Regions from separate parts of the Homo sapiens genome. Here regions 1 and 3 are each linked to region 2. Evidence: fine-mapped expression QTL. A gene starts in region 2. Each other region holds a variant in brackets. All regions are shown on one strand. Distances are between the middles of the regions.

Evidence for each region. PIP is the estimated chance that this variant, and not a neighbour inherited with it, causes the effect.
Region 1: its variant is the best candidate, but not a certain one, in a credible set for the expression of LYRM1 in whole blood (TOPMed, PIP 0.83).
Region 3: its variant is the best candidate, but not a certain one, in a credible set for the expression of LYRM1 in monocytes (Fairfax 2014, PIP 0.53).

The regions. Positions count from the first base shown.
Region 1 is chr16:20,925,125-20,927,884 of GRCh38, forward strand. No RefSeq gene overlaps it. Among named protein-coding and RNA genes, the nearest start is that of LYRM1, 26 kb to the left of the region's middle. The variant C/T (reference allele first, on the strand shown) is at 1,138.
Region 2 is chr16:20,899,389-20,902,148 of GRCh38, forward strand. LYRM1 (LYR motif containing 1) reads left to right here and starts at 1,383. Exons shown (of 4, transcript NM_001128302.3): 1 at 1,383-1,501. DCUN1D3 (defective in cullin neddylation 1 domain containing 3) reads right to left here and starts at 970. Exons shown (of 3, transcript NM_173475.4): 1 at 816-970. RefSeq lists enhancers at 530-579, 789-1,574, 1,575-2,360.
Region 3 is chr16:20,919,535-20,922,294 of GRCh38, forward strand. LYRM1 (LYR motif containing 1) reads left to right here. Exons shown (of 4, transcript NM_001128302.3): 3 at 588-680. Among named protein-coding and RNA genes, the nearest start is that of LYRM1, 20 kb to the left of the region's middle. The variant T/TATAA (reference allele first, on the strand shown) is at 1,407.

The DNA of each region.
Region 1 (2,760 bases), 26 kb after region 2:
GGTTTGGCAATAACGTAGGGAACAAATATGATGCTGTATCAGTGGAGTAATAGTATATGTATATATATAAAATTTTTTTTTTTGAAACGGAGTTTTGCTCACATTGCCCAGGCTGGAATGCAATGGTGCAATCTCAGCTCACCGCAACCTCTGCCTCTTGGGTTCAAGCAATTCTCCTGCCTCAGCCGCTCGAGTAGCTGGGATTACAGGCATGTGCCACCATGCCTGGCTAATTTCGTATTTTTAGTAGAGACGGGGTTTCTCCATGTTGGTCAGGCTGGTCTTGAACTCCTGACCTCAGGTGATCCGCCCGCCTCAGCCTCCCAAAGTGCTGGGATTACAGGCGTGAGCCACCACGCCAGGCCTCAGTGTGTGCATATTTAACACAAATGCAACTAGTACACTTTGTGCTGCTATAATGGAATATCTAACACTAGGTACTTTATGAAAAACAGAGATTTATGTCTTAACAGTGCTGGAGGCCAGGAACTACAAGATTGAGGAGTCTGCACCTGGTGAGGGCCTTCTTGCTGTGTCGTTATAAGGCAGAAGGCATCACATGGTGAGAGAGAGTGAGAGAGGGCCAAACTCACTTTTATAACAAACCCAGTCTCGTGATAATGAACTCACACCTGCCATTATGACATTCATTCATGAGGGCAGAGCTCTCATGATCTAATCCCCTCTTAAAAGCCCTACTTCTCAACACTGTTGCAATGGTGATTAAGTTTCCAACACATGAACTTCAGACGACACATTTAAATCATAGCATTCTATCCCTGGCCCCCAAAACTCATGTCATTCTCACATGCAAAATACATTCTATCCCAGTAGCCCAGAAGTTTCAACTTGTTTCAGTGTCAACTCAAAAGTCCAAATTCCAGACTGATCTAAATCAGATATGGGTGAGGCTCAAGGCACAATTCATCCTGAGGTAAATTTCCCTCCAGCTGTGAGCCTGTTTTATCTACTACCAGGATACAATTGCAGGACAGGCATCAAATAGGCATTCCCATTCCAAAAGGAAGAAATAGGCAAGAAGAAAGGGGTAACTTCCCAAGTGAGTGTAAAACCCAAGATAGAAAACAATATCAAATCTTAAGATAGGCCAGACATGGTGGCTCACGCCTGTAATCC[C/T]AGCACTTGGGGAGGCCGAGGCAGGTGGATCACGAGGTCAAGAGATCAAGACCATCCTGGCCAACATGATGAAACCCTGTCTTTACTAAAAATACAAAAAATAGCTGGGTGTGGTGGCACACACCTGTAATCCCAGCTACTCGGGAGGCTGAGTCAGGAGAATTGCTTGAACCCAGGAGGTGGAGGTTGCAGTGAGCCAAGATCACGCCACTGCACTCCAGCCTGGCAACACAGCGAGACTCCATCTCAAAAAAAAAACAACAAAAAAAAAAACTGAAGATATCAGAATACTCATCTTTGACTGCATGTCCTAAATCCTGGGCACACTGGGGTAGGAAATTGGCCCCCCAAGGCCTCAGGCAGCTGGACTCGGTCTATGCAGCATCTCTCATGGGTTGGAATCTCATGCCTGCAGCTATCTCAGGCTGGAGTTACACACTGGCGGCCTTACAGTTTGGGGCCTCAAGAACTGCCCCACTCTCATGGCTCCACTAGCCATTGCCCTAGTGGGGACTCTGAAATGGCCCTGCCCCTGTGACAAATGTCTTCCTGAGTCCCCAGACTGTCTGCAACATCCTTTGAGATGGAGGTGGAGCCTGCCAAGGCACCACAGCACTTGTTTTCTGTGCACCTGTAGAATTAGCATCACATGGATGCTGCCAAGGTTCACGGCTTGTACTTTTACAAAAATTATCTTTTTAATTGACACATTGTATCTAAACAGAAATGGGACAAATTGTACATTATAATTGTATATATTTATAGGGTGCAATTTGATGTTTCAATACATATATATATATATATATAATGATACTGATCTACAGCTTGTACTTTCTGGAGTGGCAGGACCCATGTGGGCCCATTTGAGCCATGGCTGGGGCAGCTGAGCTTGGAATTTATCTGCACCTCTCTGGAAACCTTGCCCTCAAGGTCCTAGCTTGCCTCAAAGATCTCTGAAATGCCTTTGGGGTTATTTTCCCATTGTCTTGATGAATAAACCCTGGCTTCCTTCTACTCATATTAATCTCTTTTAAAAGGGCTGCTTGACCAAACCCTTAATTTTCTCTACTGAACATGCTTTTTAAAAATTCTTTAAATCCAGGCACAGTGGCTCATGCCTGTAATCCCAGCACTTTGGGAGGCCGAGGTGGGTGGATCACCTGAGATCAGGAGTTCGAGATCAGGCCAACACGGCAAAACCCCGTTTCTACTAAAAATACAAAAATTAGCTGGGCGTGGTGGCGGGTGCCTGTAATCCCAGATACTTGGGAGGCTGAGGCAGGAGAATCGCTTGAACCCAGGAGGCAGAGGTTGCAGTGAGCAGAGATCATGCCACTGCATTCCAGCCTGGGCAACAGGCTGAGAATTTTCCAAATCTTATTCTGCTTCCTTTTTCATCACACATTCCATCTTTAAGTCATTTCTTTCTTCTCTCATTTTACTATAAGCCACCAAAAGAAGCCATTCAAAGCCTTGAATGCTTTGCTGCTTAGATATTTTTTTTTTTTTTGCCAGATATGTTCATCACTCTTAAGTTCTGCCTTCCACAAAGTCCTAGGACATAGACATGGTTCCACCAAGTTATTAGCAACTGTATAACAAAGATGGACTTTACTCCAGTTT
Region 2 (2,760 bases):
ATTATAATCGGAGCGTAAGAGGTACTCCCAACGTGACAGCCTGTATGAAGTATTACAAAGCTTACAGTTAAGATCTGGGATAGAGGCTGAACACCAAATTCAAAAGAGGTAACCAAGGCACTAAGTGCCATAAAGGAGGAAAGGGGAAGAAAAAAAAATCCACTATTGCCACTCAGCCACAGAGAATTAAAGTGGAAACCAGGGGTGTGCATGGGGGAGGATGAGGGGTGAGAAGTGCGGGGGGTGTGGTGGAGGAACAAACAATACATTTGTCACCCCGTCCCACTTCCTATAGAGGATACAGGCAAAGCCTCCAGCCTCATTACCTCGGACACAGATGGTTATCGTTTATAGCAAAGGTGCACAAAAAGGCCTTCAGGTCTGAGCCCCTTAATTCCAGGGCTGTTAATGATTAAAGAGAACGATGGGGGTGGGGAGGGAAATGAGGGCGGAGGGAGCTGGGAGATTCACCCACCACCTCCCCCTAGGGCTCCTACCTCACAGCGCTCACCCAGGACAGAGGACCAGAGTCTGCACCCCCTCCAGGGCAGCTCCAACCCCATATCCCCAGGCCCTGGGTTGAGGGGTGCTGGCGGTGGGGAGGCAGGGACAGTAGGTAAGTTTTCTGAGCCCTGCGGCTGACACGCCACAGGCTCCCCTCACAGCCTCTTCTTTCAGAGGTACCACTCCAGACAACGCGCTGACTTCCACTCCTCCCTTTCCACCCCCCTTTCTCGAAGGTACCCAACCCCCGCCCCTTCATCTCTCAATGCCCCCCCGCCTTTTCCTCAACTCCCCCCCTCCCCAAAACTCACAGCTGCTCCAGAGGTTCCTCCAGTCAAACCCTTTCTGGAAACGACGGCGGCCCGGCGGGTCCAAACCACCTACCATCCCCGCTCGCGTTTCCAGGCTCCCTACCCCCGCCGCCGCCGCCTCTTCTTCCACCACTGCCACCGCCTCCTCTTCATCTGCGGCCCACCGGCGGCGGCCGCCCCGAAGCCCCGCCCCCTCCATCGCCTCCTGCATCATCACTTCCGGTAACCCCGCCGGCCGCCAGCTCCAGGAGGGAGAATGGGAGAGGGGCAAGGAGGGAACGAGTGGAAGATTGCGTCACGACGCACATAAAGACGTACGAAGCCGTCGCCAAGTAAGGGCAAAGACCTAGCAACCCGGAGGGAGCTGGGCTGGACCATTTTTTTTTCTTGTTTTACGGGAATGGAGCGGGGAGGATAATGAAAGCGTAAAGGAAAAATAGGGGGAGGAGGAGCTCAGCTTATTGTTGGATGCGGCGGGAGATGGGTAGAGTCAGTCAGTCGAGACTCCCCCAGACCTGGAACTGGTGCTCCCACAGAGGTGGGCCCGGTGGTTTGGTCCGGCCTGGCCTACTGGACCAGCCTGTGCTCGGTCGGCCACGGCTCTGCTGGGCTCCTGGCGCCGCCTCCTCCCAGCCCGCCGCGGGCTGCGCGCTTCTGTGGGTGGGGGAAGGCAGGACTGACGCAGAGTGAGTGTAGGGGATGGAGGCGCCGACTCCAGGCGCGGGAGACTGGCGGGGAAGGGGTTGGCTCCCCACGGGCAGGGATGGTTTGGAGGTTGGGCTGCGGCGTTGCCGGGAGACGGGCCTGTGTGACCCCAGCTTCGCGGGGGCGGCTCGGTGTCATCGCCACCGGCCTCGGGGACCTGCCTCACGGAAGTGGCTCGCGCGTCCAAGAGGGGAGGCCTGGTGTGGGGACGCTCAGGTGCCGGCGTGGGGCCCCCTCGGAGGCTGTGAATCTTTTGGACCCCCGAATGTAAATGGGAGATGGTAGGGGCCGGTCCGGGGGCGAGAGGTGTCTGGCTGGGGAACGTTGACCCACACCAGGTCCCGTACAGGAACGGAGACTCCCTAGGACCGTGAGAGCCAGCTTCGTAATTCTCTTGCTCTTCAAACCTGAGAGTAGGGTGTTGCTCCGTTACCTTCCATTCGTGTGCAGGAGAGAGTTAAGTAAATCAATAAAGAAGGTATCAGCAAGTGAGAAATGCCCCCCAAAGACCGGATGAGGTGACAGAAGATGGGGGGAGGGCCCCTCGAAATCGGGTAAGGTCGTTCAAAGGAGGCCACGGTTTTGCGGGGATCCGAGACAATGGGTTTTCTGGGTGGAGAGAAGAGCCAATGAGAAGGACTTTTAGGTTGGAAACAGCCAGAAGGCCATGTGGCTGAAGCAAACAGAGCCAGGGCCGGAGTGCCCTGTGATGTAGTTGGGGAAGTGGCATGACTGTAGCAGCGCCTTTTAGCCCAAGGCAGGGGTTTGGCTAATGTGTACCTTAAGGGTTTTAAGAAGGGAAGTGACCTGACCTGATTTACATTTTTAAAAATCCGCTCTGCCTGCTGGATAGAGAAGGGTGGAAGTAGTTAGACCTGTTAGGAGACTGTTGCACTGTAAGACAAAGGAGAGGTGAAGATAGTGTTGAAAGGGCCGGCCGGGCGCGGTGGCTCACGCCTATAAACCCAGTACTTTGGGAGGCCTAGGCGGGCGGATCACGAGGTCAGGAGATCGAGATCATCCTGGCCAACATGGTGAAACCCCATCTCTACTAAAAATACAAAAATCAGCTGGGCGTAGTGGCACGCGCCTGTAATCTCTGCTACTCAGGAGAATCGCTTGAACCCGGGAGGTGGAGGTTGCAGTGAGCCAAGATCGCGCCACTTCACTCCAGCCTGGGCAACGGAGTGAGACTCCGTCTTAAGAAAAAAGAAAAGGCCCTCAGTCACAGTGGAAATGG
Region 3 (2,760 bases), 20 kb after region 2:
AGTAATTTTAGAGAGATCCATAGCGGAATCATTTATAATAGCAAAAAATTGGAAATAACTTAATTATCCATGGGTAGGAGATTGGTGAAATTATAATAAAGCCTTCTGTTGGAATTTTATATAGCTGTTAAAAAGAAGGGAGCAGCTCTATAGATAGAATATAGAAGGAACCTCAAGTTATGTTCATGAAAAAGCAAGGTTCAGAACAAAGGGAGCTATTGTTTGTGTGAGAAAAATAATCAGCTTCTACATACATGTGCATTTTCACATATACATAGAATACCCCTGCAAGAACACACAAGAAACTGCTAATTGTTGTCTCCGAGATGAGGAACTGGAATAGAGGAGTAAGAGGGAAACGTAGTTCTTATGTTACATCCTTTTGTATTATTTGAATTATTTTTACCTACTTTAACGATTTTAAAAGTTTATGGTAAGCTTTAATATTAAATTGCTTTTGATTTTCCAAATTAGTAACATTTCATTTACTGGCTAGTGAACTAAAAAAGTTTGAGAAAATGTATACCTATACTCTATGTACCATTAGAAAGATACTATCAGCCTCATTTCTTTCTCCCTTTTAATAGCTCACGGACACAGACCTAATTAAACAGTGTATAGATGAATGCACAGCCAGGATTGAAATTGGACTGCATTACAAGATTCCTTACCCAAGGCCAGTAAGTGTGACTCCGGTTAACAAGTGCTGGGTACTTACCCTCATCAACCTGGTTATTTCCAAGAATGTGTAACAAGAGGGCGAGTGCTTGCTGAGAAGCCCAGAGCTGCTGTGGGAGGCATGTTGGAAATAAGCTATCATTGCATGCTGCCAGCCCATCACAACAAAGTAAAATGTCAATGAATGCATGACGTATCCTGCTTACATAGCTTTCCACGTATGGAAGGGAAAACCAGCTCACACTGTAGAGCTTTTTCTCTTTTCACTTTCATCTTTTTTATGGAAATGTGTTTAATTATAAAAGGCAGGTTTGTTGTTACTAAAAGAATAAAGTTCAAACATGAAAGGAATGCATAAAGTAGAAAGTAAAAATGGTCAAAAATTCTCATCCAGGCTAGGCACTGCGGCTCATGCCTATAATCCTAGCACTTTGGGAGGCCAAGGCAGGAGGATCACTTGAGGTTAGGAGTTTGAGACCAGCCTGGGCAACACAGTGAGACCCCATTGCTATACAAAATTTAAAAATTAGCCAGGCATAGTGACACACTCCTGTATTCCCAGCTACTTGGGGAACTGAGGTGGGAGAATTGCTTCAGCCCAGGAGGTTGAGGCAGCAGTGACCCATGATCACACCACTGCGCTCCAGCCTGGGTGACAGAGTGAGACCCTGTCTCAAAAAATAAATAAAACTTAAATTTATATATATAAATTTAAAATAAAAAAATTA[T/TATAA]ATAAACTTAATACATTCAGAAAGTTAAGAAACAAAATAAATTTCAAATTTATATGAATTTAAAATAATAAATGTATATAAATTTATGTTTTCTTAAATTCTTTCATACCATAAATTTAAAACAATAATTTAATTTAAAAGAAGTTTTATTTATTTATTTATTTGTGGAGACTGAGTCTTCGCTTCATCACCCAAGCTAGGTACAGTGGTACAGTCATGGCCCACTGCAGCCTTGACCTCCCAGGCTAAAGTGATTCTCCCACCTCACTTCCCCAAGTAGCTGGGACTACAAGCATGTGCCACCACGCCCAGCTAATGTTTTAATTTTTTGTAGAGATGGAGGTCTCACTGTGTTGCCCAGGCTGGTCTTGAACTCCTGGGCTCAAGCAATCCTCCCACCTCAGCCTCCCAAAGCTCTGGGATAACAGGCATGAGCCACCGTGCCTGGCCAGAAATCTTTTTTGTTTGTTCGTTTTTTTGGAGACAGAGTCTTACTCTGTCGCCCAGGCTGGAGTGCAGCATGATTTCTGCTCACTACAACCTCTGCCTTCCCAGTTCAAGTGATTCTCATTCCTCAACCTCTCGAATAGGTGGAACTACAGTCGTGCACCACCACACCCAGCTAATTTTTTGTATTTTAATAGAAACAGGGTTTCACCATGTTGCCCAGGCTGGTCTTGAACTCCTGAGCTTAGGCAATCTGCCCACCGTGGCCTCCAAAAGTGCTAGGATGACAGGCGTAAGCCACTGCGCCCAGCCCAAATTTCTTAAAAAAAAAAAAAAAAAAAAAAAATTTCTCATTGTGCAGAGGGTGAACACTTTAACTGTTAAATGGAAAATTGCCAATATTCAACTCTTTTAGCTACAAAAACAGCAATTTTATATTGTAGTGGCTCAACCTAATTAGTTTGGTAGTATACCCTTTTAGTCTTTTTTTCTGTATTCATGTACCTACATTTTCTTTACATATGTAGGATTCTGGATATAATGTTATACTGCGTACTTATTTTACTTCATGTCTTCTGCACATCTTTGTATGTAGCTCTCCCTCAATCTTTTTTTTTTTTTGAGACAGAGCCTCACTCTGTCACCCAGTCTGGAGTGCAGTGACGCAATCTTGGCTCACTGCAGCCTCCTGGGTTCAAGGGATTCACCTGCCTCAGCCTCCTGAGTAGCTGGGATTACAGATTACAGGTACACCACCACACCCACCTAATTTTTGTATTTTTAGTAGTAACAGGGTTTCACCATGTTGGCCAGGCTGGTCTCGAACTCCTGGCCTCAAGTGATCCGCCTGCCTTGGCCTCCTAAAGTGCTGGGATTATAGGTATGAGCCACCACGCCCAGCCCAATC